6 separate regions of the Homo sapiens genome follow, and all the other regions are reported to be linked to region 1. The links are microRNA targets in miRTarBase. Many come from high-throughput screens and were not tested one by one. Region 1 holds a microRNA gene; each other region holds the end of a gene's coding sequence. Distances are between the middles of the regions.

Evidence for each region. Region 1 holds the annotated microRNA hsa-miR-6760-5p (CAGGGAGAAGGUGGAAGUGCAGA, at 2,673-2,695, shown strand). A microRNA usually pairs through its seed, bases 2 to 8, with sites in the 3' UTR of a target mRNA and lowers its output. Matches are read on the target gene's strand: a 7mer-m8 pairs with bases 2 to 8, a 7mer-A1 pairs with bases 2 to 7 and ends in A, and an 8mer does both.
Region 2: the mRNA of SLC22A23 is a reported target of hsa-miR-6760-5p. Seed matches in the 3' UTR shown: 7mer-m8 at 3,201-3,207 and 7mer-m8 at 1,689-1,695.
Region 3: the mRNA of GDPD5 is a reported target of hsa-miR-6760-5p. The part of its 3' UTR that is shown has no 7-base or 8-base seed match.
Region 4: miRTarBase lists TSEN54 as a target of hsa-miR-6760-5p. Seed matches in the 3' UTR shown: 7mer-m8 at 885-891.
Region 5: miRTarBase lists SIGLEC10 as a target of hsa-miR-6760-5p. Seed matches in the 3' UTR shown: 7mer-m8 at 531-537.
Region 6: miRTarBase lists ZNF740 as a target of hsa-miR-6760-5p. Seed matches in the 3' UTR shown: 7mer-m8 at 2,342-2,348 and 8mer at 52-59.

The regions. Positions count from the first base shown.
Region 1 is chr12:111,301,475-111,305,559 of GRCh38, forward strand. MIR6760 (microRNA 6760) reads left to right here and starts at 2,668; the gene lies at 2,668-2,735. It overlaps CUX2 (cut like homeobox 2), which reads left to right. Exons shown (of 22, transcript NM_015267.4): 10 at 2,736-2,840. The region is part of intron 2 of LOC105369983 (a long non-coding RNA gene); the gene reads right to left.
Region 2 is chr6:3,269,577-3,273,661 of GRCh38, forward strand. It overlaps SLC22A23 (solute carrier family 22 member 23), which reads right to left. Exons shown (of 10, transcript NM_015482.2): 10 at 1-3,836. The coding sequence ends at 3,479. Among named protein-coding and RNA genes, the nearest start is that of PSMG4, 13 kb to the left of the region's middle.
Region 3 is chr11:75,432,291-75,436,373 of GRCh38, forward strand. GDPD5 (glycerophosphodiester phosphodiesterase domain containing 5) reads right to left here. Exons shown (of 17, transcript NM_030792.8): 17 at 2,350-3,365. The coding sequence ends at 3,217. KLHL35 (kelch like family member 35) reads right to left here and starts at 913. Exons shown (of 7, transcript NM_001039548.3): 1 at 753-913. RefSeq lists an enhancer at 1-437.
Region 4 is chr17:75,523,695-75,527,779 of GRCh38, forward strand. TSEN54 (tRNA splicing endonuclease subunit 54) reads left to right here. Exons shown (of 11, transcript NM_207346.3): 10 at 1-85; 11 at 568-1,041. The coding sequence ends at 718. It overlaps LLGL2 (LLGL scribble cell polarity complex component 2), which reads left to right and starts at 2,003. Exons shown (of 26, transcript NM_001031803.2): 1 at 2,003-2,131. RefSeq lists silencers at 1,369-1,468, 1,489-2,208, 1,525-1,709.
Region 5 is chr19:51,407,457-51,411,541 of GRCh38, reverse strand. It overlaps SIGLEC10 (sialic acid binding Ig like lectin 10), which reads left to right. Exons shown (of 11, transcript NM_033130.5): 11 at 171-1,522. The coding sequence ends at 443. Among named protein-coding and RNA genes, the nearest start is that of SIGLEC10-AS1, 6.2 kb to the left of the region's middle. RefSeq lists enhancers at 2,092-2,592, 3,610-3,659.
Region 6 is chr12:53,186,896-53,190,980 of GRCh38, reverse strand. ZNF740 (zinc finger protein 740) reads right to left here. Exons shown (of 7, transcript NM_001004304.4): 7 at 1-3,480. The coding sequence ends at 3,391. Among named protein-coding and RNA genes, the nearest start is that of CSAD, 8.0 kb to the right of the region's middle. RefSeq lists a silencer at 602-896.

The DNA.
Region 1 (4,085 bases):
AATGTAGACACATCTCTGGAGGGGGAGGTAAGACTAGTAGCTTTTTTTTTTTCTTTTCCAAGAGACAGGGTCCAGCTCTGTCACCCAGACTGGAGTGCTGTGGCAAGATCCTAGCTTACTGCAGCCTCAAACTCCTGGGCTCAAGGGATCCTCCCAAGTAGCAAGGACTACAGGCTCACACCACCACAGCCGTAATTTTTTCTTGCTGTTGTCAAGATGGTATCTTGCTATGTTGCCCAAGCTGGTCTCAAACTCGTGGTCTCAAGCAATCCTCTCACAGTCCTGGAATTATAGGCATGAGCCACCATGCCCAGCCCCAGCTAATTGCTTTAAAACCCAGCTTTACTGTTCAGGGGCTGTCTCCATGATGTGGGTCTCACCCACCCTTGATGTCTAAACACATAAACCTCCAGGGAAGGAAACCTCTGGGGTTCTCAGTAGCTAATCAGCCATGAGTTGAATTTTCAAGGCTTGTCCTTTAGTCCAGATCTCAGCTTTCAATCAGATATGCTCAGGGTTCCCTAACTGTACAGAAACATAAAAATATTTCCTTTACAGTCCCACATACCAGGAAACTCTTCCCAAAACAAAATTGACTTGAACCATTTCTGGAACAAGGCAAGATACGTATAAATAAATAATAAATTCAAATGTGAACATGAATGTGTATGGGTCTCAATATGCATACATTGGGCATAGCATCCTGATTGTCCAGGTCATTATGTAGTTAAACATAATCACTATGACCTGCATTACCAGCCAAAGGCAAAAATACAGCCACAGCTCTTTTAATTCTCTAAGTAATGGCTCAAGTAATATACCCTCATGATGTTAACAAAGTTAACCAATTATTGATGCATTTATATGTGCCAGGCACCAAGCAAAGATATCTACCAAATTGCATTTGGCCAAACCACTTCATTTGCAGAACAACCCTATGAGATAGTTGCCTTTATAATCCCCATTTTATTAATAGGGAAACCGAGGCTGGGGAGATGAAGCCTCTTGCCTAAGATCGCATAACCGGAAAGTTGCAAAGTCAGAATGTGAGCCCAGATTTCTCTCCAAAGCCACAAGATTAAATGTATTAACATTTGAATGCTTCCTTCCAGGTAGAAATTTTTTAAGAATTAAGATCTACCAGCTGGGTGTGGTGGCTCATGCCTGTAATCCCAGCACTTTTGGGAGGCTGAGGTGGGTGGATTGCTTAAGCCCAGGAGTTAGAGACCAGCCTGGCCAACATGGAAAAACCCCGTCTCTACTAAAGATACAAAAAGTAGACAGACCTGGCATCACACACCTGTAATCCCAGCTACTCAGGAGGCTGAGGCAGGAGAATTGCTTGAACCCAGGAGGTGGAGGTTGCAGTGAGCCAAGATTGTGCCACTGCACTCCAGCCTGGGCAACAAAGCAAGACTCTGTCTTAAAAAAAAAAAAAAAAAAAGAAAAGAAAAAGAAATCTACCAGCTGGGCACAGTAGCTCATGCCTGTAATCCCAGCACTTTGGGAAGCCAAGGCAAGTGGGTTACTTGAACCCAGGAGTTCAAGACCAGCCTAGCCAACATGGCAAAACCCGTCTCTATTAAAACTACAAAAATTAACCCGTCATGGTAGTGCACACCTGTAATCCCAGTTACTCAGGAGGCTGAGATGGGAGGATCAATTGATCCCGGGAGTTGGAGGTTGCTGTGAGCCCTGATTGCACCACTGCACTCCAGCCTGGGTGACAGAGCGAGACCCTGTCTCGAAAAAAAAAAAAAAAAAAAAAAAAAATCGACCATAGACCCAGTTTAGTGAACTGCTGCATTCTGATTTTAACCACTCAAAACCTCTTTGTGTTAGATGTTTTCATTGCTCCCCATTTCAAAAAGAGAAACTGAGCTGGGCACGATGGCTCACTCCTGTAATCCCAGCACTTTGGGAGGCTGAAGCGGGTGGATCACCTGAGGTCAGGAGTTCAAGACCAGCCTGGCCAACATGGTGAAACCCCACCTCTACTAAAAATACAAAAAATAGCTGGGTGTGGTGGTGTGCACTTGTAATCCCAGCTACTTGGGAGGCTGAGGCAGGAAAATCTCGTGAACCCAGGAGGGGCAGCTTGCAGTGAGCCACGATTGTGCCACTGCACTCCAGCCTGGGTGACAAGAGTGAGACTCCATCTCAAAAAAAAAAAAAAGAAAAGAAAAGAAACTGAGACCCAGGGAGAGGAAGTGACTTGCCCAGGGGCTGCAATAACCTGTGGCCTGGGAAAGCACCTTTGCAGATGCCGTGTCTGGGACTCATTCCATACCAGGTGGCATGAGAGTTGGAACAGCTCTTGCCTTCAGACTAGCCAGGCCTGAAGTTAATGTGGCAGACAGAAGTATCTAGAAATGTGTGAAAACCTGCCAGTCCCACCCAGAGAGCCTCTCTCATCCTGCCTTCATAGAGCAGGAATGTTCTGACTCCTCTGGGGGTCCCAGGCACCCCACGAGAACCCAGAACCTCCTCAGAGGGGCATTTCTTCCTGTCCTCTCAGCTCAGGAGTAACCCCAGAGGCTGCTATTTCTTGTCCCCAGCCCAGACAGGGCTCTGTGACTGGTCTTCATAGCTCCAGGACAGGGTCCGGGACTAGGAAGGCAGGACCTGAGGCCCTCGGAGGTCTGCCTCCCCAACCCCTGCCTGAAACAGTGCAGGGAGAAGGTGGAAGTGCAGAGTGGGCTCACCTCTCGCCCACACTGTCCCCTTCTCCCCAGCGAGCTGAGGCTGCCCAGCGGGAGGTGGAAAGTCTCCGGGAACAGCTGGCCTCTGTCAACAGCTCCATCCGCCTGGCTTGCTGCTCTCCCCAGGGGCCCAGTGGGGTAAGGATGGGGTTGGGGAAGTGAGCAGGGAGGGCAGAGGGAAAGATCGGGAATGGCTGAGTTTGCAGGTTTCAGCATGTGGGTGACACTTTGTGGTTGATTGTGTGCATCCATTTGAAACTGGGAGTGTGAATGTGTGTGGGTCTCTGTGCATACGGTGAGCATAATCACTATGACCTGCTACACCAGCTGAGGATAAAAATACAGCTACAGTTCTTTACTTTTCAAGCCCACGTTTCCATATACCCTTTATTACCAGGAGTTCCAGTATCTTCCTTTGGAGGCCTCCCTTATCCCCAATTATCCAAGAATGCCAGGAACTTCCTCAGACCAAAGATCATTCTGATTTCCAGATGCACCAGCAAAGACATGGGGGAGAGGGAGTTTGAGGCAATACAGCAGCATGCAGTTTTGGTGGCTGCCACCAGGTGTCGCTGTTGAACACCGGTCATAGCAGCTTTGTGCATGCTTGGGATGGTGATGCCCCTGCTGGTTTTCAGTCCCAAAACTGGGTACTTTTAGGAGTGTGAGCCAGCCAACATATCAACAGGCAGTCATCACCAGGACTGCAGTGGGGCCACATACCAAGATAAAATTTAACATTCATACTCAGCCATTGGTTTCCAAAGCATGCCAGGTGATTCTAGGGGGATTTCCCACCCCAGCCACATGCTATGAAGAGCCAGTCTTCGGTGATCAACCCTGAGGTTCTTGTGTTAGGCCTGATTAATCAATTCATCTTTCTCTTTCCTCCTGGTTTGTGCCTCTTTGGGGTCCTAGTGTCATTTCTTGACAAGAGACTTTCATCAAGGCCACCCCAACCTACCCTTCTGTCCTATATTAGCAGTCTCCATCCTGGCTCTCCCAGAGAGCCTTGGGTTCATTATGTGAATTGGTCTGCCTTATTTCCAGATCTCTACATACCAAGGGGTGAGATTCATGATTCCTTACATAATAACAGGTCTGCTCCAGGGTGACTTCCCTCTCCACCCATGAACCTGAACTTGCGAGCATAATTTTCACTTCACCTGACACCCACATATACAGGCCCAGGTGTCTATGTCTCTCTTTCTGTTTGAATATTGGAATGAGTCTCTATGAATGTGTTACTGTGTATGTGTGTCTCTACTTGTGACCTTTGGGCAACTGACTGTATTCTTAACCTGACTGTGCCTCAGTTTCCTCATCTGTACAATTAACATCTACTTTATAGGGTTATTAAAAGGATTACATGAGTCAGGCATG
Region 2 (4,085 bases), not on the chromosome of region 1:
AAGCTTGTGCTATGAACGAGCACCGTCAGAGAATTCCCACCCACACGTACAGAAACACAGTTTTTATATTACAACCTCAAGGACAGGGAGGGAAGTGTTCGCCGCTAGACATGACACACCATACTGCTTTTCCAAAACACACGGGACATGAAAGCGAGGTGGTGCCTTCTAGACGAGAGGACAGCTGTAGTGTGGACCTCCCCCGCACATGCGATACCTCGGGCCGGGCGGTGTGACCTCACAGGCCCACTTATGGCACTTGCAGTTTGGGATTGCTCATTTGGCTCTAGGAAGCGGTGGTGTCTGAGTGTGATACTTCCCTTACGAGGTTTGTTTTTGTTTTCTTTCTGTTCTGTAGCCAAACCAATTTACCAGCCCGTCTTCCAGATGCAGGTGATCTTACTCTCAGTAAACAAAAACATGTAACCTTTTTCCTGTTTCTCTTGGGTGGTAATAATTTTAGGGCATTTGATAAGAGTTTGACTTCAGAAAAAGAACAAAGTGAAGAAATGTTCAGCTCCATCTCAGGTGTTCACATTTGTGCATAACTTTTATTGAAAGGCTGACAGGGTAGGCTAGCGGAACGGAGGGGTGTGTGGAGGAGAGTAGCAGGGGGTGGGAGGGTCAAGTTGAAACAGTGGGTGCCTGCGAAGGGTCTCCCTATTAGCCAGGAAGGGAACAGCACAGAGGGGTTCAAGCGTGACAGACGGTGCTGGGAAGTGGGCAGCCGTAGCAGCCTCCCCTGCTGAGCCCGGCGGGCCCAGATGCGTATCAGGCTTGGGTGGGTCCTGCCACCTTGCTCACTTGGTACCGGATTTCCCGGGGCTGTGCCCACAGGGAAGTGTTGCTGCTCTGGCAACATTTCATAAAGGTGTTGCTCAACAGCTTCAGGTATCCCTAGGCTGAAGCTGCCACCAAACAGGCACCCGGCCTCCTCCTCCTCAGGCTGCCCTGGGAGGAGAGCTGTGGGACCGCCTCGCCGGCTGAGAGCCATTACCTGCCGACCGTCGGCAAGTCAGCCTCACACCCACTGGACTCTGCTCCCAAGAGCCCAGGCTGTTTTCCTCAAAGCTAGCCTCTTTTCCAGTCATCGATGGATTAGTCCTGATGGCTGAAGTGCTGAGCAGTGTCTTCGTTGGACCAGTTTTTTATTGTCATTTGAGGTGGAGATCAGAGATCATGACCAGAAGAGTGTGAGTGCTGTCCCTTGCCACCAACTTCCTAGAGATTTCGGGCAGCACTCTACAGCTTCAATTTCCAAAAAAAAAAAAAAGTTTACACGACCAGTGAGACTGCTCGCAACTTTCATCACTTAGCATATCCTTCCACAACACAGTACAGTAAGTGGACTGCAGGGTGGCCTGGTGCTGAGGGTGATGGGTGCAGACGTACACCTGTCCAGGTGCAGGCTCAGGGGCCTCGCTGGATCCTTCCCACCTTCCCCAACTGCCTACTGGCCTGGCTACTGGATAGGTCCTATTCTGTACATAATGGGGGTTTGTTGACAGGTGGCTTTATAGCAAGTACTCCAAAAAAGGTAAAAGGAATTTCACAAGTTTGGCACGCAAAGGCTGCACAGATCTAAAGAAAGGCCTTTGTAAAGGTGAATGCAAACTAATGTTGAAACATGGAAATGTGACTTTAAAAAAGAGGGAAGGTGAGGAGCTGGACGTGGAGCAAGTGGAGGCAGGGAGAGGCTGGCCAGACAGCCTCCCTTCCTGGGTATCTCAAGATCCCAGGTGTCGGCGTGGTCCAGCCACTGGAAACACGTGGCCAAGAGTCTGCTTGCCCCTTGCTGTGTCTTTACACATCTCCAGGCCCTTACTGATGTGTGGACCGCATGTGGAGGAGACATGAGTGGCGACAGCAAGCAGCAGGCCGGGTGGAAAGCCAGAAGGGGAGAAGGTCAACCCCTTTTCTGCCCTGTGAATTCTAGCAACTGTCGGTTGGAAGTCACTTCATTGTCTCACCCAGGCCCGAGACCACAATTTCCCTGGAAGGACACAGCCCATGGCAAAGACATGCTTCGAGAAGGGATGAGTTGGACAATGCCAGTAAGAAGCCAGGCTGTCCAGAAAAGCTGGTGCCCAAGTTGCTACAAAGTGGTGCCTGCCCTTGCCAAGGAGGCTGTCTCTTAGTCGCCTTGGGTGTCCTACAAGTTTCCTCCGAAAATGCCAAGAGGAAACCTCCACTTTCTGGGGTGAAACGAGGAACACGAAGAGACCCATGGAGGTCGAGGCAGGGGCAGCGTTGAGCTTTGGTGAGTTATTGCTTTCTTTCAATTTGTCTTGATGCCTTCGAGAGGCTGGAGGTCATTTGGACTCACCTATGAGGAATCTCCGCTCCCTGCCCGAAGCCCCACCTCTGTGCTATGCGAGTGACTGCAAGCAGGAAGCTGGCCCAGGAAGGCAGGCGTGAGGGGGCCCAGCTCCTGCGGGTGCTCCCTGGAGTGATGTCTGAGGTGACGGCCATCCAAGCTGGTGATCTTCATGGTGTGTGCTCAAGGTGTGGGTGACGGGCGTGTGTGTGTGGAGGGCAGCCCCCCTTCTGTGGATTTGCCTCTGCCATCTTTTTGAGTTATTTTCTAATGGTTTGTAGCTTAGAAAGTAGCCATGTTTTCAAGTAGTGCCGGCACAAGAGCTGCCTGTGCACGAGGGACTTTTCTGCTGGAGCCAATCTGGGAGAGGAGGAATAAAAACGAGCACATCTCAGGTCTCGACGCATCTGTTAGCTGTGTACTCACAAAGCTGTGGCGATATGACTGCTGCTCAATTAAGATTTCTGGTGAAATGTTTAAGCTTTTTCTCCAAGAGCTTCCAGCATCAAGTACAAAAGGATGATCCTGAAGGAAAGATGAAGCTGGTTTTAACGGCGTCTGTGAGCTGCTTTCCCTGCACACGAACAGAAGCTCTTACCTTACAAACAGAAAGGGAAAAAGGACCTTAAAAAACCATACACAGACTCTAGCAAAAGCCAAATTCATGTACATTTCACTCCGTCTAAAATGCAGTCCCGGAAACGCTCCACGGTCCTCTCCTGCCTCTGCACGCAGGCAGGCAGCCTGGGGGGCTCCTGGGTGCTGCCAGGAGCCGTGTCCCATCTCCCCAGAGGGACCGGCCATGGCCCTGGTCACTGTGGCATCTTCCCAGAGCAACTGCGTCTCGCTGCCCAGGGAGGTGATTCCATTTGTGATCAGTGAGAGGGAGAGGGAATAAAGTGCTTCTCGTAAAAATGACCAAAATAAATACACACATTTAACGGCAGAAAAGAAAGTCTTGAAAGGGTTATTTCCAAAGAGTTTGTCTCCTCCGACCCGCGCTCCTTGGACTTTTGGAAAGACAGGATTTCCCCACACCAGTTGAGAGGCTCAGCTTGGCTGAGGCAGCTTTCCCACCCCTGGCTGCGTGTTCGGTCCCTGGTCTGTAAACCTGTGCCCAAGCTGCCCCAGACCCTGGAGCCCCGGGTTCCGCAGGCCGGGCTACATGGCCTTCATGCCGTTGGCCGTGGCACCCTCGGGCAGTGTGTCACCCGCGGCTGCGGCATCGTGGAGGCCCGAGTAGTCCTTGAGCTCGGCGTTGGTGAGCAGCAGTGGCTGCTCCCCCTTCTTGTGCGGCAGCAGCGGCTGGCGCGTGTAGTGCTCCCCGTTAGAAATGTTCTCAGGCAGGTTCTGGTCCCTGCTCTCGGGCAGCAGGAGGATGCAGATGATGCAGATGAGCGTGCAGCAGGCAAAGATGATGTGGTGCAGGAAGTAGCCTTTCTGGTTGTGCAGCTCGATGATGGGTGCCGTCAGCATGCCGAAGCCCGCGCTGGCCAGCACCAGCCCCAGCCCGCCACACCTGCAGGGGGAGGGAAGCACAGGGATTGCTGCTGTGGGCTAGCGGGCTGGATCCCGGGAAAGCTCGGGGTGGACCAGGAAGCCACCTCTGCAGGGGCCCTGCTGCCCTGGGCACTGCCCAGTATACCCCGACCTCACACGTCCCATGTCACCAGCACCCTGGCTGTGTCTGTACAAGGCCACTCTACGGCAGTGACTGTTTTTCCTCATCAAATCAAAAGCTTTTACTTAATTTATCTTTTTCTTTAAT
Region 3 (4,083 bases), not on the chromosome of region 1:
GCGGATCCCCTGGTCAGCATCATGAGAGATGAGCTCCCTGGTGGGCAAGAAAGTTAACTACTTTTGCCCAAGTAGAGCGACTGGATCCTGAATCCACCTGGCTCCAGGGTTTGCATGCCACACTTGCCAGGGTGGGGGTGTGTCCCAAGGAGCAGCCAGGACCGGTGGAAGGAAGTGAGACCGGTCATCACAGCACGCTGCAACCAGTCTGTCCTCCACTGGCTCAGAAAGCACAACCATGCTCTGAGTTGAGACTCAAGAGGGCAGGTCTCATCAGCATAAGGATGGACTTCTTGCAAAGGTGCCCCACAGCACAAGCAGCTCCCTGGGGGAGAAAGAGTCCCCTCCTAGGAAGTGTGTCAGTACTTTTTCATTTTACTGTCTACTGCGCTGGGCACTCTGGACACACAGTGACATCAGATCCAGCATTCACTCTGGGGATCCCCAGTCTGGGGGTCAAACGACACCCAGTTGGAACACAGAAGGTAAAAATTCCCAGGTAGGGCTCAATGGGTATCCTCCCTTCTCGGCTGAGTCTAGGCACTTCAAGCCAGGGGTCATGATGCAGATTGAAGGGCCCAGCCTATAGAAGCTGACTCGAACATGCCACCATCACTCTTTTACACACCCACATCCACTTGAAGCCATTACCCAAGCACCTCCTCCGCATCCTCCCCATCTCAGACTTGCGGACACCACGCAGCCGGGTCAGCCCTGCAGCCTAAGCCTTGCCCCATGCACCTGGCACTTACCTGGCCATACCCTCTCCCAAGTGCTCCGCAGCTGCTGCTCTCACAGGTATCACTCCCGTTTGTGCCTGCCGCCCGCACCCCTGGCAGCCCAAGCTCCAGTGTTCATGCTGCTCTGCCCAGACTCCCGTTTGCTGTTCGCTCGGGCTCAGCTGCGGGAGGACAAAGGGGCTGGACGCCAGGAGGGAGGGGAAGGGAGGGGAAGGGAGAAGCGAGCAGGGAGGGGGATGCTGGGCTTTTGTTCCACTCTTGGACTAGCCCTGGGAGGGAGGGAAAGAAAGGGGGGGCATAAGAGTGGGATTGACTGTGTGTGGAACTCCAGGATTTGGTATGCCTGGGTTTGGGGGTGACCTGGTGCTGGCCTTGTCCCGGAATGACGATGGGTTCGAAGGTGTGTGGTGCTGGAGTTGGGGTGTGGGAGGGGTGTCATCATGCAGTTGTAGGCATGTAGGTTTCAGGGTGACTATGCGTGATTGTGGAAGTACATGGAATGAAGTGACTGTGTAGCATTGGGCTGCGTGTGGACATGTGGCTGTGTGACCATGTAGATGCCAATGTGACTAAGCATGTGGGGCGGGGGGCACAGTGGCTCTGAGTCTCATTCCCTTGAGCTCAGGGAGAGGCGGGAGCTGACCTCTGCCCCAGGAAGCAGAGCACTTGCCAGACATTCAGTAGCAGGGGCAGGAGGGCCGGTCCTCGAGGTTACTGTGGGGGCCCAGTGGAGCTTCCAACATTTGCAGAGGGCTCTTTTCTTTTTTACCTATAAGGTGCCAGAATCTCCTAGACCCCAAGAATTCTATCCAGAAGATCCCTGTTTGGAAGAGACACGTCCCTTGGCTCCCAGGAAGCATGGAGTTAATTTGATGCAGGCTGGAGCTGGGGCTCAGCTTCCCCCTTTTCCCTCAGGTCACACCCATGACCAGGCAGACTCTCAGGACAAAGAGGGGAGTTACAGGCCTGCTCTGACACCACCACTGACTCCTGCCCACAGACAGCAGAGGTCCCAAGGACTGGAAGGAAAGGACACCTGTGGTCCCAGGGCTGTACTTTGGCTTTCAGCTCAGGTGCCCCCAGTCCTGGGCATGGGCATGGGCCCTCCTCAGGCAGGTCCAAAGCTCGGAGAAGTCAAAGCCAAACTCCTGGCATGGGGAAGAGGCCTCCCTGTGCTGAGGGCTTGTCCCAACATAGCCGGGAGGTTCAGAATGCCTTCATGTGGCTGTGAGGGCACCTGCCAGTCCCACTCCCAGCCCTACATTGGACCCAGGAGCCCTCCCCCTCTGCGTGTCATTCCTAGCTTATGGGAGGCACACATATGCGCTGGGGCCAGAGTCTGGATGGGATTCTGGCTTGGCCTGTTCTAAGCTGTGTGGCTTTTGGAGGTCACTTTACCTCTCCAAGACTGTCTCCCCATCCACCATATGAGGATACCGGCTCCCAGCCACTGGCACCATGGCGGACCCAGGGAAGGGGAGGCACCATTCTGCCACTTTCCCATTCATTCCTGAGAATGGTTCCTCCTCAGATTATAGGGTCAGAACTGAAACCTAGACCCAGCGCACTTGTCCCCACCCTCCTGCTGGCAATTCAGAGACAACACACATCAAGATGGCAGCTTTAATCACATTGGCCAAGGGCCCTAGGTTCCCTCTGTTCAGGCCCACTTAGCCACACACCCACCCTGGCCATATCCAGAACACTTCTACCAGGTGGGCCCTGCCCTGTGGCCACTGATGTGGGAACCTGAGGTCACATCAGTCTGTGGACTCCTGGGTTAGGTGACCCTTCTGCCTTGAGGTCTGCTGGACACCTGGGCATGGGATCCAGTAGTCCTGAGCTCACTCTTTTGGCCATCTCCAGCTGCTCCTAGAGGACGTGGCTCAGGCCCGCTCCTGGGGCAGGGGGTTGGCGGTGGCATGAGGTGGGTTGGGGAGGAGGACGTGTCTCCACATTGCAGCTGGCTTCCTCCTGGGCTGAACCTCCTTGTGCTTTGAGACTGACAGGAAGAGCAGAGTTGCTTCAGGTAGAGGCTCGGCCCAGGCCCTTGGGGCAGGATAACAGCAGAGAACTCAGGTGCCTCCTGGCACAGACAGGAGGACAGATGGCACAGGTGAGCATCCACACACTCCATTGCCACAGGGGGTATGGCATGGCCCATGACCCATCAAAGCTTCCAGGTCGGGATACAGGAGAGGGCCTCAGAAGAGGGGGACCAAGCCCTAGGCCCCATACTTCCCAGAAGGAGCCCCAGGCCTGCAGGGGCATCTGAAAGGATGGAGTCCTGGCCCAGCTGGGCCTCAGGAGACAGGGAGTCCCCCTCAAGAGAGGCTGCGGCTGACAAGGGGCTGGAGCCCACAAGGAGGCTGTGGAGCCCGCTCCCAGAGCACTCCGAGTTCAGACACACTTCCACCAGCTCTCCTAGGCTCCCCAGCTTCTGTGTCAGGTACAGGTGGGACAGACATGTCTTCAGCTAACGCCCACTCCGCTCTATGAGGGTCTTGGTGTGGCTGCCACCCCCTCGGGGGCCCACAGGGGTGGCGGTGCTGTTGGCATATGTGTCATAACTGTTGTCTGAACATACGGAGAGCACATCGGAGACCTCTACACCATCGCTGATCTCTGCTGGGCCAGAGGGAGACAGAATGTGAGTCGGGGAGGAGGCAGTCGTGAGGATGGGTGACAGATGGGGCAGGAAGGCTGCACCACCCAGCGGGGCACTTGGAGGCTGATGAAACCACTGGGCTCAGGTCGACATTGAGCCTGGCACTCAAGGCCCCTTTGGTGTCTGCTGAGCACTCTAGCTTCGCCTTCATCTGCTGTCCCCTGGGACTCTGCAGCCACAGAAAACCACCTGTGCCCCTGAGCTTGGCACCCATGTGTCCACTCTCCTCAGGGCCTTTGCATGTGTCAGCCCCTCTCTTAGGAGTGACTGCCCCAACAACACCTCCTTTTCCTACAGTCTGGCTCAAGTCTTCTCATCTGTCACTCAGCCTCCTGGGAACCTCATCGGAGCCCTGGGCCGAGTTAGGGCCTCCTCATGGCAACTCCAGACCCTGCTTCCTTCTGCCCTGGCCATATTCTGTATGGTTGCTGCCTGGGCCCCCAAAATACCTCAAGGACCAGGGTGGGTTCTGGGCATCTATGTCCCCAGGGCCTGGTAGAGTGCTGGACACAGAGCAGAGGCTCAAGAAAGCTCTGCTGAGTGGAGTTCGGCCATATAGAGGGACACTTCATTCTTGGTGCCCAGGCAAGCGGTGCTCCCTTGCCACCTCTGCACACATGCCGTGCCCACCTGGAATGCCCTTCCTTCCCTCAGCTCACTCGGCCCTCATCTTGA
Region 4 (4,085 bases), not on the chromosome of region 1:
TCTTTGATGTTTACCAGGCCGACGCTGTGGCCACATTCCGAAAGAATAACCCTGGCAAACCCTATGCCCGGATGTGCATTAGTGGGTACGCAGTGAGCCAGCACTGCCCCTCCCCCAGCTGCTGCCAGTTCTCCTGTGAACCAAGTGGGACTCCTCTGTACTCCCCTGGCCAGCGTGCCAATCTCTGAGAGGAACAGGAGGTCCAGAGAGGCTAAGTGACCTACACAAGGCCACACAGCCAGTTTGTGCTGCCCTACTCTGAGCTCCTCGTTGCTGGCATTTTAGGGTAGTCTTTCTCCAATGCCATTTTAGTCTAGGACTCACCCAGCAGAAGGGATGTGGATTGTGGGGATTTACAGGCTAAGAGTGGTGAGCACCTTGCTCTTCCTAGCACCTCCCCAACCAGTGCTCTGGGGCGCTCTTCATCAGAGCCCTGTGTTTTGGAGACAGAACTCATGGGTCAGAATTCTTGCACCCCAACTCCTTCCGTAGAATCTCTTCTCTGGGAGCCCTAGAGCTTAGGAGTGGGCTATGGCTGGGTCTCACTCTAACCCTTTGTCCCTGCAGATTTGATGAGCCTGTCCCAGACCTCTGCAGCCTCAAGCGGTTGTCTTACCAGAGTGGGGATGTCCCTCTGATCTTTGCCCTGGTGGATCATGGTGACATCTCCTTCTACAGCTTCAGGGACTTCACGTTGCCCCAGGATGTGGGGCACTGACCTCACAGCTCTGCAGAGGATGGAGCTTGCTCCGGGGGACCGGGACTGTCTGTTCTCAGGGACCATCTCGGCTGCCTCCTGTACCCAGACTCTAACCTGTAGCTTCAGAGGCCAGTCTGGGCCTTGGCCCTGGGTGTCTGATACTCACAGAGTGAAACTGTGACCCTCTCCCTTCCCTGCTGCCTTGCAGTGACCCCTCTGGAACTCAGGACTCGATTTTAAGGACCCAGGAGGTGGGGCAGAAGAGAGGACTGTGTGCCTTTAACGAGAGGGTGCCTGCTTCGTGCTATAAAGCCAAAGCCATTAAAAATAGATTTCTTTTCTGCTGTTTCTGTATGTACTGGGTAAACCCCTCTCGCCCCCGTCCCGTTGTCAGTGGAACTGCCCCCAGCCCCTCACCCCTGCTTTGCCCACTCAAGGAGATCCGCTTCCTCTGGTGCGGGATCTAAGAGTGAGAGAAGCCCGCGGGATAGCAGGAACGCGACCTCGAACCTTTTGAGCCTTTCCCGGGCCTGCGTCGGAGGGGATGGGACGTCGCAGGCTTCCCGAAGGGAGGAGGGAGGACGGCGCGCCATCGGCCCTTCCCTGGGCGCAGCGGGGTGCGGGTGGCGAGAGGCGCCACCTGCAGCTGGGCGGTGGAGCGCGCTGCAGCCCCGGCCTCCGCGCCCTTTCCGCTCCCGCCTCTCGTCGCTCCAACCTCCTCCCTCGCTTGTGCTAAAAATTCCACCCGCTGTTGCAGACCCTCCGGCCGACACGGAGGAGGTGGGCGCCCCCCCGCACCCCCCCCCGAGGAAAGGCGTCTCGCCGCGACGCCCCGGTCCCTACACCATCCCTCTCGTGGGGCTGGAAACCCGGCCCTGCGTCCCCCGGTCACCCTCTCTGGGCTGGGCTCTGGCAGAGGAGCTGGCCCGGATCCGCCCCTCCCTCGGCAGCTCCCGGGAGTTGGAGGGACGGCTCCCCTGGAGTCTGGGAGGCGGCCCGGGACCGCAGGCGTTCCGGGAACTATTTCCGCTTGCGGGAGGCGGCGGGACACTGGGCGCGGCGCGCCGTTCTGCGTCCAGGTGCGCGCAGGTGAGGCCGGGGCGGGCCTGCGGAACCCCGAGGCCGTTCGCGAGGCCCCGCCCCGCGCTTCCCGGGGCCGCGGATTGGCAGGAGCGCAGCCCCCACCCCCGAGGGTGCCCCCGCCCCTGCGGCGCCGAGCTGGGGGGCGGGCCGGGGGCGGGGCGCTGGGCCCCGGCAGGCTCGCCCTTTATGTAAATAGCGCGGCTCCGCCCCAGGCTCGCCGCGCCGGAGGTGAGCAGGAAGGAGACGGCCGCCCAGCAGCCCGTGGGCAGGCGCGGCGGAGCGAGCGGGGCCGGCGGCGGGCGCCGAGGGACGCCGAGGCCTCGGGCGGGGGCTGGCCCGGGGTTCCAGGTGAGATGCGTGCCGGACTCGCCCAGCCGGGCCCGCCCCCTCGGGGCTTCCACCTGGGGCGGGGAGGCCAGGGAGGCCCAGGACCCCTGGGCTGTCGGGCCAGGGCGGGAGGGCTGCGCCCAGGTCCGCGCGCCTCGCCCCTGTCCGCGTCGCTGTGCTGGCCTGGAAGAGAGACACCTGTAGAAAGTTCTGCGGGAAACTTCTCTGCCTGATCTGCGCGATGACTGAAACTTGGGCTTGGGTTTGCACAATAATGTTGGCTTAGGAGAGCAGGAGAACAGGTGCCCCGGCCGGCTGGGTGCGGGGGGCACCGCGGGCAGAGACGGAGTCCCCGGGCCCACGTGCAGGCGCCAGGCCAGCGGGGTTGGCGACGCGCGTCTGCGGTGACCCCCTCCCCACGGGCGGCGGCCGGAGCGCGGTGCCCCGGCGGCTTAGCCCCTGCCCCTGCCATCTGGGCTGTGTCCCTGCCGGCCCTTTGTGCCTCCTAATCCCCGGACGCAGGAAGCCCGCGGGAGGGACTTCGGTCTCCGGCCTTTCTCCAGCTGGGGCGGCTTTGGACACCTTCACATGACAGTGCGGAGACCCAGTCTGCCCTCCATGCTGACGGGCGGGGTTTGCGCTGTGGGATTTGGCGAGAAGTGGAAAATTCTATCTTGCCAAAGAAAGTGTGTCTTAGTTTGTTCCGGCTGGACGATTGGTGGACACGCTGGGCCTTGGCTGTGGGGAGAACTGACCTAACCAGGGGAGCTGTAGAGTGGCGCTTTGAGGCTCTCACCTGAACAGGTGAGCTTTGAGTGAGGAGGGCGCCCCTTCCCCTGGGGATCCGTATGCGACTGCCGGCAGCCTTAACCTGGGCTCCAGGGACCCCCTGCTGGAGTTTGTAGTTCAAGAGAACCTTGAGTTCTCTTGAAGGGGCTACAGAGAGGATTCTGAGCAGGGAGCGGGCAGGGAGGGAATGGGTGTGTCAAGGTGACAAGGAAACGCTGGTAGGAAGAGCAGAGCTGCCACAGAAGAGCTGTGGCCCAGCCCGGGGGAAGCCAAGGTCAGAAGTGGCAGTTGAGGCTGGGTGCATTGGCTCACAGCTGTAATCCCAGCACTTTGGGAAGCCAAGGCAGGAGGATCGCCTGAGCCCAGGAGTTTGAGACCAGCCTGGGCAACATAGTGAGACCTCGTCTCTGCAAATAATAAAAAAAGTTAGCCAGGCATGGTGGCGTGCACCTGTAGTCCCAGCTACTCAGGAGCCTGAGGTGGGAGGATTGCCTGAGCCCAGGAGGTGGAGGTTGCAGTGAGTCATGATGGCGCCACCACACTCCAGCCTGGGGACAGAGTGAGACCCTGTCTCAAAAAAAAAAAAAAAAAGTGGCATTTGAGGAAAACTGTCTGGGTCTGTGTGAGCAGAGGCACAAGGAGAACTGTGCGAGAGATGTCTCAGCTTTATTTTATGAACTGGGATTTGGGGTTTAGTTTTCTTAGGCGATCTTCCCACAGTGCTAGCTGTGGCAGACAGAACTCAAACTCAGCTCTTAAGCTTCTAATCAGAGTTCACTCCTTTCCTCTGAAGTTAGACTGGGCCCATCTTTGTGGGGGCTCCTGGACAGGGTTTCCGGGGTCCAGGGTCATTTGGCATCCCCATTCTTCCTTGAGGCAAGGGAGTTTCCCCTTTGGTGTCAGATTAATATGCTTTTAATTATATTAAAATGACACTACATTCATAAATAAGAAATAAAATAGAAAAAAGTAACTTTTTTCTCTTTTTTTTTCTTTTTTTTAAACTAAGTTGACCAAATTCTTTTTTTCTTTAATAATATGTTTTTTAATTTGTAGAGATGGGATCTCACCATATGTTGCCCAGGCTGGTCTCAAACTCCTGGACTCAAGTGACCCTCACACTTCAGCCTCCCAAAGCGTTGGGATTACAGGTGTAAGCCACTGTGCCCAGCTGTTAGTAACTTTT
Region 5 (4,085 bases), not on the chromosome of region 1:
TGTACTTTTGCTAATTATTGTCTGTTCCTCCTTCCAAGATGGAATGCAAGCTCAGCAAGGCAAGGGCAGGGACTTAGTTTCACTCTGTGCTGTAAATCAGTGCCCGACGCGTGGTAAGTGCTCAAATATTTGCTGAATGAATGAATGAAGGATGGTGGTTCTTCCCTCAGGCTCAGAAGCGGAATCAGAAAGCCACACCAAACAGTCCTCGGACCCCTCTTCCACCAGGTGCTCCCTCCCCAGAATCAAAGAAGAACCAGAAAAAGCAGTATCAGTTGCCCAGTTTCCCAGAACCCAAATCATCCACTCAAGCCCCAGAATCCCAGGAGAGCCAAGAGGAGCTCCATTATGCCACGCTCAACTTCCCAGGCGTCAGACCCAGGCCTGAGGCCCGGATGCCCAAGGGCACCCAGGCGGATTATGCAGAAGTCAAGTTCCAATGAGGGTCTCTTAGGCTTTAGGACTGGGACTTCGGCTAGGGAGGAAGGTAGAGTAAGAGGTTGAAGATAACAGAGTGCAAAGTTTCCTTCTCTCCCTCTCTCTCTCTCTTTCTCTCTCTCTCTCTCTTTCTCTCTCTTTTAAAAAAACATCTGGCCAGGGCACAGTGGCTCACGCCTGTAATCCCAGCACTTTGGGAGGTTGAGGTGGGCAGATCGCCTGAGGTCGGGAGTTCGAGACCAGCCTGGCCAACTTGGTGAAACCCCGTCTCTACTAAAAATACAAAAATTAGCTGGGCATGGTGGCAGGCGCCTGTAATCCTACCTACTTGGGAAGCTGAGGCAGGAGAATCACTTGAACCTGGGAGACGGAGGTTGCAGTGAGCCAAGATCACACCATTGCACGCCAGCCTGGGCAACAAAGCGAGACTCCATCTCAAAAAAAAAATCCTCCAAATGGGTTGGGTGTCTGTAATCCCAGCACTTTGGGAGGCTAAGGTGGGTGGATTGCTTGAGCCCAGGAGTTCGAGACCAGCCTGGGCAACATGGTGAAACCCCATCTCTACAAAAAATACAAAACATAGCTGGGCTTGGTGGTGTGTGCCTGTAGTCCCAGCTGTCAGACATTTAAACCAGAGCAACTCCATCTGGAATAGGAGCTGAATAAAATGAGGCTGAGACCTACTGGGCTGCATTCTCAGACAGTGGAGGCATTCTAAGTCACAGGATGAGACAGGAGGTCCGTACAAGATACAGGTCATAAAGACTTTGCTGATAAAACAGATTGCAGTAAAGAAGCCAACCAAATCCCACCAAAACCAAGTTGGCCACGAGAGTGACCTCTGGTCGTCCTCACTGCTACACTCCTGACAGCACCATGACAGTTTACAAATGCCATGGCAACATCAGGAAGTTACCCGATATGTCCCAAAAGGGGGAGGAATGAATAATCCACCCCTTGTTTAGCAAATAAGCAAGAAATAACCATAAAAGTGGGCAACCAGCAGCTCTAGGCGCTGCTCTTGTCTATGGAGTAGCCATTCTTTTGTTCCTTTACTTTCTTAATAAACTTGCTTTCACCTTACCGCCTCGTCTTGAATTATTTCTTGTGTGAGATCCAAGAACCCTCTCTTGGGGGGTCTAGATCAGGACCCCTTTCTTGTAACACAGCTACTTGGGAGGCAGACGCAGGAGGATCACTTGAACCCAGGAAGCAGAGGCTGTGGTGAGCCAAGATCACACCACTGCACTCCAGCCTGAGCAACAGAGTGAGACCCTGTCTCGAAAAAATAAAAATCCTCCATGGATAGGCCATCTCATCCCAGACCTGGGCATTCGGAACAGCCTGACAAATCTGTCCTGAATGGCCTTCTCTGAATATGGTGTTCTGAGAAGGCAGGCAAAGATTTGCCTTTGACACACCCCAGCTCCAGTCCAGAGGACTGCGCAGTTTCATGGGTTCTCAGAGATGGGAGGGTCTTTAAAGATGACTAGATACAGCCAGGCGCAGTGGCTCACGCCTGTAATCCCAGCACTTTGGGAGGCTGAGGCTGATGGATCGCTTGAGGCCAGGAGTTTGAGACCAGCCTGGCCAACATGGTAAAACCCCGTCTCTACTAAAAATACAAAAATTAGCTGGGCGTGGTGGTGCGCAACTGTAGTCCCAGCTACTCGGGAGGCTGAGGCAGATTTGCTTGAACCCAGGAGGCCGAGGTTGCAGTGAGCTGAGATGGCGCCACTGCACTCCAGCCTGTGCAACAGAGCGAGACTCTGTTTAAAAAAAAAAAAAAGACTAGATAGGCTCCTCAGTCACCTCCAGCCTGCTGCCTATTTTCATACCACCTGCAAGCTAGAAATGTTTTTACATTTAAATGCTTGGGGAAAAAGTCCGAAGAAGAAGACTCTTCTGGGGCCCCTGGGAAGGAGATGAAATTCAAATTTCAGTGTGGTGCCCAACCATGCTCATTCCTTTACACATTGCAGTTATTTTCATGCAGAGTTGAGTCACTAGCCTGCAAAGCCTAAAATATTTACCATCTGATCCTTTACAGAAGTTGGCTAGATCTTAATCTACATAAACTCATTTGTTTTCACAGAAGAGGAAGCGAGCGCAGAGGTCCATAAAGAGTTCAAGAGTAGCCGTGGGAAAAATGACTAGGTCTGTGACTACAGGAAGGTTTTCAGGGTGAGGATTGGAAGGGCAGGAGACTGCATGTGGATGGGGTGCTAATGCGCTCTCAGACCCACAAATCTAAAGAAGTGCAAACGCATGCGGGGATGGAGGTTGGAATGCTTTGGAAATGGAACAATGACAAACTTACAACATGCTAAGAATCACACAGTGGCTCACGCCTGTAATCCCAACACTTTGGGAGGCTGAGGTGGGCGGATCACCTGATGTCAGGAGTTCAAGACCAGCCTGGCCAACATGGTGAAACCCCGTCTCACCTAAAAAAATACAAAAATTAGCCAGGTGTGGTGGCGGGCACCTGTAATCCCAGCTCCTCGGGAGGCTGAGGCAGGAGAATTGCTTGAACCTGGGAGATGGAGGTTGCAGAAGCCGAGATCATGCCACTGCATTCCAGCCTGGGCAATAGAGTGGGACTCCGTCTCAAAAGAAAAGAAATAGAGCAAAGGAGAGCACTTTGCTGGCCATCTCCTCTGCTGACCTCTGCTCCTCCATAGCCACCCAAGGGGCCTTTCTTCGGTAGTTATTGCATCGTTGGTGACATGGCAAGGTGGCCCTCTCTGGTGTGTTTTGTTTCCTGGCTGTGCTAAACACTCCAGATACTGAAAAATAAAAAATTAAAAACTGAGCTGGACACGGTGGCTCACGCCTGTAATCCAGCACTTTGTGAGGCCGAGGCAGGCGGATCACTTGAGCTCAGGAGTTCGAGACCAGTCTGAGCAACAGAGCGAGAGCCTGTCTCTACTAAAAATACAAAAATTAGCCAGGTGTGGTGGCAGGTGCCTGTATTCCTCAGCTATTCAGGATCCTGAGGCATGAGAATCGCTTGAACCTGGGAGGCAGAGGCTGCAGTGAGCTGAGATCGCGTCACTGCACTCTAGCCTGGGTGACACAGCGAGACTATGTCTCAAAAACAAAGAAAAAACCTGAATTAGCTGCAAGGACCAAAGTTGGCCACCAGACGTCGGTATACCCAGGATGATAGGACTATAGACTCATGGTGTGGAATGGGATCACCCAATGCAGCCACCTCATTTTACAGAAGGACTTCAGAGAGGGACAAGGTCTTGCATGTCACACAGCTGAACTCCAGAGCTGGGATTCAAACTCAGGCCCAGGATGGGTGAGCACTGCTGGTTACACAGTCTCCTTTAAGCTTAGAGTGGGAAGGATGCTGCAAGGGCTTGAGAAAAAGGGAACTCCCTACAAGCTGCACAAAGACTGAGACTCTGCTTCCTTCCTTCTACCACCAAATTCTGCCATGAGAGCAACCCTTGAAGATCTGTTTGACCTGGGAAATTACAAGATTGCATTGCTAAGGCACCAGGTTTGACTAGGTGTCAGTAACTTTGAAATGTGTGTGTTAAGGTCCTGACTTCTGCAATAGTGACTTGGGACTTGGAGGGAGGGCATTGTTATCCAGTACTCTTGGGGAAAGGCAATGTTGTGCAAATGAAAAC
Region 6 (4,085 bases), 58 Mb from region 1:
AAGGGGTTTTAAAATGGCTTATAGGGTGCTGGAAGTTGTGGGGTGATTATGTAGGGAGAAAAAAGGAAAACAACTAAAACCAGTATGAAAAAGCTTCCCCAAAGAGGAGATAGTATGTAGAAAAGCCCCATTTTCCTTTTATTTAAATATCCTAAATATATCACGAAGGAACATACACTGCACTTTAATGGTAAAAAGATACAAGTTTATAACATCTTATAAAAACTACCATTTAAAAGTGATCTTGTCCATTTGATATTCCCCTCCCCCATAGCAAAATATTATTTAAAAAAAAAAAAAACAAAAAACAGGGTGGAGAGGAGGATAGGAAGGGGACAGTTGATAAAACCCCAGGGCCACAGCAGAGGCAAAGGGCATCTGGGGAGAGGGTTCGAAGCTGTGGCGGACTCCACTAATGTAACCCTCCAATGTCAAGCCATGGGCGTGATCAGTAGCTAAGTGATGACAAGGCTGTTGGGGGTGGACGGAAAAGACTTGGGGCAAAGCAGACTGTTTATAGCCTGAGCTGGTAGGGCCTGGTGCAGCAGCCTACCCGGAACTGGCACTACTCTTTCCCAGGTTCCCTGACTCTCTATCCTGGTCTCTGAGAGCGTGCCCTACTTCCGTTTCCCCCACTCCAAACACACCTGAGGCATCTTCCAGTGCTAGGCCCCATGCTGGCCAGCAGGGGTCGGGCATTGGGCCCAGGAGCCTCTGCAGCGGTGTGAGTCAGTGGCTTCCCTGGGGTATCCGTGGGGCTCCCGGGCCCTCTGGATGCCAAATCACTCCTTTCACTGCTTTGCGCCTCTCTTCTCACACATGCACTGCCCCAGACATCAGCGCGGGAACTGAACCAACCACCTGCTCCTGAGTTTCCCTCACTGGGTCCTTGGCAGGGGTGGCTCTGCTATGGCTGTTCGCACATACTCTCTGAAGTTCCCTCCCTCCCACCCACCCAGGCAGGAAACCAAGGTCTGTGGGAACCCAGGGCACCTTCTGACCCAGTACACACATTAGTACACATAGGGGCACAGGTCACTCATGTGAGACTTACATGAATCTCTCCACATACACCCCTATCCCAAAGAGACTAGCTGTAAGTGGCAGGGACAGAGGGCTCTCATTTTCAAAAGCATTTTTGGGAGGATAGTTTTCTAAATATTTTAAAATGGTTTACAGGGTACTGGAAGATGTGGGGTGAATCATCCCAGAAGTGAAGGACAGGAAAAGCCCAGATCCAGCAGAACCCTTGAACAGGAAGGGGGCTGGCTCACATGCAGAAAGATGCCCCTGCTTGCAGGGACCACAGGGCTGATCCAAGGACTGAGGTCTAAGTTCTGGACCACATCAAATGGGAGTGTCAGCATAGAGCTGTAAGAGTACATGGCAGCAAACACTCCTCAGCGTCTCCCCAAAAGGATCTCAGATGCTGTCAGGGAAAATCGAATGGGTGCCATGCCTGCTTTCTTTTTCCCTGAAATACTCATACCACAGAGGTATGGACAACCCCCTCCCCAACCCCACCCCTCCAGAATAGGTAACAGCCAGGAATCATTGCTGGTATCCATTCTTTACATTTTCTGGGAAATGAAATCATACTTTCAGGAGTTTCCCATCTCAGACCCTACTGACAGCTTGGCACTCAGGTTCAGCCAGTCTCCATGATTACTAAGACAGTTCCCGTACCCGCCACAGGTCAGGTCAGGTTACAGTGGGGGTCAACCAAACCCCAAAACTTCCCATAAGGATTCTTTCTTTAGCAGAAAGAAAAGGTTTATTTCACCTTAGAAAATTCATGTTCACAAGCCCTGGCTTGGGTTAGAAACATCCTAACCACCAGGCTGTTGAATTCATCTTAAAAAAAAAAACCCTCCAAAACAAAAGCCCTTCTGTTCCCCAAATTGTGTTCTTCAGCTCCTGCTGAGACCTCAAGCACCCTTCATGTTTGGGCAAGAGGAGGCTATTTTCCACTCATCCTCCCTGAAGGTGAGGGCCAGAGAAGGGTTTGGCTCAATAATATGCCATCTCCTGCAAGCATACAAATACATGCATTCATATCTCACACACACTCTCTCTCACACACACACACACACCCGATTACTTTTTTGGGAGTGGACAAGGTGGTGGTATTGGAGCAGAGAGGAGCAAAGAATATGGTTAAGAATGGAACCTACATTAGGTTTCTTCTTTAGTCTTTTCTCTGCAGCACCCCCACCCCCATCCCCCACACTCTGTTGGGTAGGGATGGCCATCAGGAAGCAAGCCGAGATCTTGTTTTTTGGGACCAAAGGACAGACCCCTCCCTACCTCCTCTACCTGAATACAGTGATAGGACTTGGGGAGGGAGAACAGCTCCTACTGCTCAACAGGCATGTCAGAAGACCCCAGATTCCTTTGTTTCTTGAGCAGCTGTTAGCCAACTTGGGACCAGTCTTGGGTTGTTCCTAAGAGGGCACAAGGAGAGAGAACCCACTTTGACTTCCATGACTCCTTGCTCAACACATCTGTCTCACTTTAGGAGTCAATGGCAGCGAGGTAGCCACATACCATCTCCAAGACCGACTCCCCAAAAAAAGAAGAAAAGGGCTTCATGGGCCACTCTCACCCAAGTTTCCTCCTAAAGGCATTTGAGCTGATGCCATCAGGTGCCAATGTGACATGGGCCATGACAACACCCACTGGCACAACTCTTCCTTTTCCCTTGAGGAAGGAAGAGGTGCCATCCACTTTTTGGATCCAGCCCTTGTCTGCTCCACCCCGTTTTTCCTTTTGTCCCTACAGTGTATAAGGAAGCCAAAGTAAGCTCAGCTGCCATTCCTGACCTTATTCTTCCTCAAAAAGGAGGCGAAGTGCAGGATTGTGAAACACTGAGGAGCTACTGCAACTAAAAACCCAATTTTTGGGGAGAGCTGGACCAGCTATAGTCCCTACTTTGGACCAGGACTCTTATGCCTCTGGATTACCTGTATCCACAGTTTACCCGCTGAAGTTGCTTTTGGATAAACAAAAACAAGAACAGAACAAACAAATCCCCTTCCCCAATCTTTTCCATTTCAGCTGCCAGCTGGAGTCCAAGGTTGTGGGAGCCACACTTCAGTCTTGGTCCTGTACCTTGAGTCCCCACCTATGACCTCAGCCAAGGGTCCAGGGACTAGCTCCCCTACCCAGGAATGCTGTAAGAACTTCCCCGAGATACTCATAGTCTCAGATTATTTACAGAGCTGAGGTTCTGGGGCCACTGTCCCCTGATGCACTCTTCTGGTCTCCTGGGTCCACTCCTCCAGGAGTGGGACAGGTTCACATGGGGCGGTGGTGGGACCATCAGACCAGAGGGGGTGTGCTCTTCGGCAGGTTCTTCTGATCACTCCCACCACCCGGGGCCCCTTGCGCCTATAGAGAAAACTGCCCGTCGGAAGTCTTGGACTGGCACCCTTGGCACATCCGTTTGTGTCTGAGTAATCGATCTGTCCGAGAAAAACACTGAGAAGAAAGGGAGGGTTAAGTGCCTGAGCAGACAAACGCAGCTACCTGTTGGCTAACTCATTCCTCTCACAGGAGGCAGATACCACATTCTCCATCCCCTCAGCACGTGCACAGACAGCAGGAGCACACGGTGGTGGAGAATCCAAGCTCTCAGGCCAGACCGCCTGGGGCTGAATCTTGGCTCTATCACTCAGCAGCTGTGTGACCTTGGGCAAGTTACCTAACAGCCCAGAATCTGCATACTCATCTGCAAAACTGCAAAGCGAGGCTAAAAGTACCTACTCACAGCACAGCTGCTTTATTCATCAAAGATTTATTGAGTATCTATCTCAAGGCAGATACAGAGTAGAGAACCAGAGGAACAAAGTCTCTGCCCTCATGGAGCTTTTATTCTAGCGTCTGAAGATTCAGTGTAAGAGTGCAGAGCAAAGCTTGGGACCTAGCAATGCATCCAGGAAGTGTTAGCTATTATCATTTCTCATCTCTTGTTCTTGTCTTGTTTTGGCCCCAGCTCTTACATTCTCATCAGATCAGATACTGACCCCCAGGGCAAAGATTGTATCTCTTCCTCCAAAGTGCATTAGCTCTGAAGTTGGACTGAA